Linked DNA regions of Homo sapiens. The protein of the gene in region 1 purifies or fractionates together with the protein of each later gene. This does not show direct contact. Each region holds a gene or a part of one and is shown on either strand. Other genes may lie near its edges.

The links. The genes of interacting proteins can lie anywhere in the genome.
Region 2: the proteins of ACAA2 (region 1) and TMLHE purify together in Homo sapiens (affinity purification with mass spectrometry; one large-scale study listed by BioGRID and IntAct). This does not show direct contact.

Annotation. Positions count from the first base shown.
Region 1 is NC_000018.10:49,807,034-49,810,533, reverse strand, and holds part of ACAA2 (3-ketoacyl-CoA thiolase, mitochondrial), read left to right. Parts: intron 1-3,500. UniProt on the Homo sapiens protein: In the production of energy from fats, this is one of the enzymes that catalyzes the last step of the mitochondrial beta-oxidation pathway, an aerobic process breaking down fatty acids into acetyl-CoA.
Region 2 is NC_000023.11:155,504,953-155,508,452, forward strand, and holds part of TMLHE (trimethyllysine dioxygenase, mitochondrial isoform 1 precursor), read right to left. Parts: intron 2,183-3,500; coding exon 1,946-2,182; intron 1-1,945. UniProt on the Homo sapiens protein: Converts trimethyllysine (TML) into hydroxytrimethyllysine (HTML).

The DNA.
Region 1 (3,500 bases):
TTTCCCATGCACACCCTTTCCTTTGTAGATATTGCATATTTCACTACTAGCACTGCCCTATCAAATGCTTTCTTAGAATATGAGACATAGGGGAGAAGTTCATAAAAGGAACTTTGTAGAGAGACAAATGAAATTAGGCTCTATTGTTTCTGAGAAGTGAGGGGTCATTTCCATGTGTGCAATATGTCATTTTTATTTCTGGATGCTTTATATATTTTTGTTATCTTTGGATTTCAAAAGTTTGACAATGATGTGCCAAGCTGCAGGAGAACGGGGTGTGGAGTGTTACGTGTGGTGTTTATTAGAGTTGAGGTTTACCAAGCTTTAATATACAAATTTATGTTTTTTATCAAATTTGGAAATTTCTTCTTTATTATTTCTGCAAATGTTTTTTTAAATCCATTCTCTGTCCTCTCCTATGACTGTAACTTGTTAGTCCTTGAGGTTCTGCCCGTGTTTTTTTACTATCCGACTTTAAAGAAAAAATTTACAAACTTTGTTTTTGAGCAGATTTAGGTTTTACAAAAAAATTGAGCAGAAAGTACGGAGTATTACCATGTGCTCCCTTGCCCGGTCCGTTTCCCCTATTATTAACATTTTGCATTAGTGTGGTACATTTGTTACAATTGATGAGCTAACATTGATATATTATTATTCACTGAAGTTCATATTTTGCATTCAAGTTCATTCATTGTATTGTATAGTTCTATGGGTTTTGACAAATGTGCAAATGACCGATGTCAGTATTATAGTGTCATGCAGATTAATTTCACCACCCTAAACATCATCTGTGATTCACTTATTTATCCCTGTCTCTGAACCCCTGGCAAGCACTGATCTTTTTACTGTCTCCATAGCTTTGCCTTTTCCAGATATCATGTAGTTGGAATCATACAGTATATGGCCTTTCCAGACTGGCTTCTTTCACTTAGCGACATGCATTTAAGATTCCTTCCTTTTATGGCTTGATAGCTCACTTCTTTTTATTGCTGAATAATATTCCATTGTATGGCTGCACCACAGTTTGTTTATCCATTCACCTGTTGAAGGACATTGTTGTGGGAAGTCAGGGACCCTGAATGGAGGGACCGGCTAGAGCTGTGGCAGAGGAACATAAATTGTGAAGATTTCATGGACATTTATCACTTCCCTAATAATACTCTTAACGCCTGTCTTACTTTAATCTCTTAATCCCGTTATCTTCGTAAGCTGAGGATGTACGTCACCTCAGGTCCACTGTGATGATTGTGTTAACTGTACAAATTGATTGTAAAACGTGTGTTTGAGCAATATGAAATCAGTGCACCTTGAACAGAATAACAGCGATTTTTAGGGAACAAGGGAAGATAACCATAAGGTCTTTACTGCCTGCGGGGTCGGGCAGTAGGAGCCATATTTTTCTTCTTGCAGAGAGCCTATAAACGGATATGCAAGTAGGAGAGATATCACTAAATTCTTTTCCTAGCAAGGAATGTTAAGACCCTAGGAAAAGAATTGTATTCCTGGGGGGAGGTCTATAAATGGCCGCTCTGGGAGTGTCTGTCTTATGCGGTTGAGATAAGGACTGAAATACCCCCTGGTCTCCTGCAGTACCCTCAGGCTTATTAGGGTGGGGAAAAAACGCTTCTTGGTAAATTTGAGGTCAGACCAGTTCTCTGCTATTGAACACTGTTTTCTGTTGTTTAAGATGTTTATCAAGACAATATGTGCACAGCTGAACATAGGCCCTTATCAGGAGTTTTTGATTTTGCCCTTTGCCTTGTGATCTTTGCTTTGTCCTTTGCCTTGTGATCTTTATTGGCCTCAGAAGCATGTGATCTTTGTTCTCCTTTTTGCCCTTTGAAGCATATGATCTTTGTGACCTACTCCCTGTTCGTACACCTGCTCCCCTTTTGAAATCCTTAATAAAAACCTGCTGGTTTTGTGGTTCAGGTGGGCATCCTGGACCTACCGATATGTGATGTCACCCCCGGCGGCCCAGCTGTAAAATTCCTCTCTTTGTACTCTTTCTGTTTCTCAGACCGGCCGACACTTAAGGAAAATAGAACCTACACTGAAATATTGGGGGGCGGGTTCCCATGATAGGACATCGTGGTTGCCTTCAAGTTTTAACAATTAGGAATAAACATTTGTTTGCAGGTTTTTGTTTGAACATAAGTTTTCAAATCATTTAGGTAAATACAAGGAACCTGATTGCTGTATCATACATATGGTTAGGTGTGTTTAGTTTTATAAGAAACTGCCAAAGTGTCTTCCAAGCTGGCCATACCATTTGCATTCCCACCAGCAGTGAATGAATTTCTGTTGTTCCACATCCTCACCAGTGTTTGGTGTTGTCAGTGTTTGGGATTTTAGCCTTTCTAAAATCCAAAAGACTAATAGTTGTGTAGTAGTATCTCATTGTTTTAATTTGCAATTCCCTAATGACATACAATGTTGAGCATCTTTTCATATGCTTATTTGCCATCTGTATATCTTCTTTAGTAAGGTATCTGTTCAGATCTTTTGCCCATTTTTAAATTGGGTTGCATGGGTTTTTTTTTTTTTTTTTAATTGCTGAGCTGTAAGAACACTTTGTATGTTTTGGATACCAGTCCCTTATCAGTTAGGTGTTTTTATAAATATTTTCTCCTAGTCTGTCGCTTGTCTTTTCATTCTCTTAACAGCATCTTTTGCAGAGCAGAGGTTATTTATTCATTTGTTTTTAGAGGGTCCCGCTCTGTCACCCAGGCTGGAGTACAGTGGTGTGAACACGGCCACTGTAGCCTTGACCTCCTGGGCTCTAGCAGTCCCCTTGCCTCAGCCTCCCAAGTGGCTAGGACCACAAGCACACACCACCATGCTTGGCTGATTTCTTAATTTTTTATAGAGACAGGGTCCCATCATGTCTCCCAGGCTGGTCTCAAACTCCTGGGCTCAAGCAGTCCTCCCACCTTGGCCTTCCAAAATGCTGGGATTATAGGCATGAGCCACTGCACACAGCCAGAAGTTTTCTATTTTAATGAAGTCCAACCTAAGTTTTCCCTTCATGGATCCTGCTTTTGGTGTTAGATCTAAAAAATTATCACCAAACCCAAAGCCATGTAGATTTTTCTCGTATGTTCTAAGAGTTTTGCATTTTATATTTAAGTCTATGATCTCTTTGTTTTTGTTTCTGTTTTTTTAGATAAGAGATCTCACTCTGTCACCCAGGCTGGAGTGCAGTGACTTGATTGTAGCCCACGGTAGCCTTGAACTCAGCCTCCTGAATAGCTGGGACTACAGGCACATGCCACTATGCCCAACTAATTTTTTACATTTTTTAGAGATGGGGATCTCGCTATGTTGCCTAGGCTGGTTTCAAACTCCTATCCTGACACAGTCCTCCCACCTCAGCCTCTTGAGTAGCTGAGATTATAGGCTTGAGCCACAGTGCCCAGCCCACTATCAAAGTTGACGCATTTTTGCCTGGATTCATTTTGTTTGGTATATAGATGTTTTGTTGTTCCAGCACTGTTTGT
Region 2 (3,500 bases), on another chromosome or scaffold:
TAGGTATATGCATTGGTCAAAACTCAGTGAGTGTATATTTAATATTTTAAACATCATTGCATATACATTGTAACTTTAAAAAGCTGTAAGCAAATATTGAACTCTACTTAATGATATAAATGTTGAAGTATTAGGGAGATATGTACTGATATCTGCAATGTATTATACTTTAAAATTCACTGAAAATAAGATTAACTGATGAATGAATAGATGGGAAGATAGGTGATAAAGCAAGTATAGAAATATCTTAATGGTAGAATCTAGATGTAAGTCTATGGCTTTTCTGTGTTAAATGTTTTCAACTTTTCTATATGTTTAGAAATGTTCATAATAAAATGTTGGGAAAATAGAGTTACTACTCATTGTTTTAGGCACTTAGATATATGAGAGATAACAGAGGGAGAGTTTCCCAGAGGAACTTATCCAAGGGAAGTAAATTAATATTTACACAGTTCCTCCTACAAGCCAGGGGTAAAGGTAAGGATAACAATTTATTTTTAACTTCACAACAAGTGGGCACAGAAGGTATTATTATTGTAACTGGAAACTCATGACTAGCAGGTTAAGTAACTTGTCCAAGGCCAAAAATCAATAAATGGCAGACAGGATTTCACACTGAACTCCTTCTGATTACAAAGCCTGTACTCTTTGTAGTATGTCAAGTTTTGCAGCTATCTTCACCCTGCCTCTTCACCCCATATCTCCTTCCCTGCTTTTTTGTTTTTCCCTAGTACTTATCACAATTTGATATATTATATATTTGCTTATTTATTTTTAATTACTCTGTCGTCACTATAATGAGAATTCCAAGATGGCCAGGAATTTTTGTCTATTGTGCCTACAGTTTCATCTGCAGTGTCAAGAACAGAGCATGACTCTTGGTAGATGCTCATGAAATATTTGCTGAGTAAACTGAATTAATGCACAGTAACAGTTTGCTTGGAATAAGCAGAAGCAGGAGCGGTAATCCATCTGCAAAAATGCATAGTAAAAAGCTTGGCTGCAAGATGCAAAATAATGGGCTCCAGAAACCCAAAGCAGTTTGGAATAGCTAGGGAAGAATGTATGGAAAACATGAATTACATGCTAGAAGAGTAAGAAGGGATCAGATCATACAGAACCTTAAAAGCCATAAGGAAGGACTCTAGTCTTTCTCTGAAAGACACTGGGGAGGTTTAGAAGGATCTTAACATGGGAGCAGAAGATAAGACTCAGCATGAAAAATTAATGGAAGAGGGCTCACAATGGAAGCAAGGACATCAGTTACAACTTTAGCCATGGGAAAGAAAAGTGTTCTCACTGCAAGAAGAGGCATTGTAGATAGAAAGCAGGGGATAGTTTGAGAAAAATATAGGAGATTGAGTTGATAAGACTGGTTGTGTAATATAAGGGAGAGGGAAAAATTAAATATGATGTTTGGTTTATGGCTTGGGAAACTTAGTGGATGGTGGTACCATTCAATGAAAATGGGAAAACAAGTGGAGAAGTAGGTTTAAAATGAGTAGAAGTGATGAGTTCACGTTTGAATATGATATGTTTTATATTCTACAAAATATCTAAGTTGTGATATCAGTAGTCAATTGAATACACAGGTCAAGAGCTTTGCATAAATCTGGGCTGGATACATAAATGTTGTTGGGTAACCTAGCTGTTTGGTCACTGAGGATAATTTAATAACTCTTTTTCATTTAATAATGTTTTCATTTAAAAAATACTACCTCTAATATTTGACCCCACCCCTAAAATAAACCTAGTATTCTTTGGTTGGTGGCTATTTACTATTCCATGGGAATTATAAGAAGAATACAAACTGTTTGATAATAAAAAGCTATAGAATAGCAAGATTAAAATGTAGCAGATATAAGAATCTTAGGGATTTTTGTTACATTAGAAGGCTAATCTTTGGCAAATATATTACAGTTGGGGATAGTTCTTTGATACTCACCTGATCAAATACAGCTCTTTATTCCATGGGTAGATATTTAAGACTGGCCCAATCCCAATCATGTGGTTGTGACATTCTCCAACATCTTCAATATATTCATGCTTCAATGGCACTTTACTGAGGAGTTCAAATTCCTCAGGTGCCTTTTGAAGTACCTGTTCTGCTGCATAGAATCCATCTACTAGCAGTGTCCTGCCACCAGTTCCTTCATGTTTAAGACAATGAAACACTTGAATGCTAAAGAGAGAAAAGAAAATTCTTCTGTTCAGTGGAAGAGAGAACATATCAAAATTCTAGAAATTATATATAAAATGATTACTGAAACTACTTGTCATTTTCTTTTCATTTCCTAATTGGAAATCTCATTTCTTAATTGTTTTTCTCTCATAGGCAGTTGTACTTTTTTGTGTTTTGAAATATTAATGCCACTAGAGGTTTCTTCTAAACATATCTAACATATATTGAAGCTTATATGTGCTGGGCCCTGGGAATACAGGCATGAATAATATATAACCTATATTTTCAAGAAGCTCATAGTCTAGTAAGAAGAACTAAAGCAAATAAATACCAAATAAAATATGATAGGTACTATAATAAAGTTGCATACAAGATATAGTGGGGTCATAAACAAAGGAATGATCTGTTCTAGCGGGGTGTTGTATAAAGAAATGTTTTGGAGAAGAATGAAAATTGTTTTGACTAATCTTAAAGAATGAGCAAGAATTGGAGTAGAAGGAGATTGAGATGAGGAGAAGGCATTCTAGGCGGAGAGAAAGCATGACCAAAGATACCAATGTAAAACAACAAGGAGTAAGAAGTTCCTATTGGCATAGCACAGAGAACCACAAAATGATTTTAAACTGTGAAACTCTACGGCCATATCAATATTTTAAAGAGTCCATTATGTTGATAGTGTGGAACATGGACTGGTGAGAAGCAACGTGACAAAAAACTTGGAAACCAACTTGAACAACTGAAATAGTAAAGAAAAATATTGAGAGCTTGAACTCAGAAAGGGGCGTTATAGAGAAGAAGACACACCTGAGAGATACCGAGATAGAAGTAGCAGAATTTGATAACTGAAGGATAGGCAAGAATCTAGAATAACTCCAGGTTTCTCACTTGGGCACCTGAAAAATGATAATGCTATTTACTAAGACCGAGATTACAGACAGATATGCTGTTGAATGATAATGAGGAAGTATGAGAGGTTGAGGAAGGAGTTCAGTTTAGAGGCATGTTAGAACAGCTAATCATATACAGTTTCTGAATATGTTAACAGGGAAAGGTAAGGTGACTATTAATTGACTGGAAAACTAAGGTAGAATTTTCAAACTTATGAGGGAAAATAAAATTAATAGTAATTTAATCAAATATGCAAAACTAAGAAAAAGTAAAAAGCAAATTAAAATAAGAAATAAACAAAAATATGGAGTAAAATCAAGGACAATCTAATATAATATAAATACAATTAAAAAGAGAAAGGTAAGCCTGGCCATATTGAAATTTCTGTGAAACTTCTAGGTCAGGGTTATTTAGTTACCAGTTAAAGATG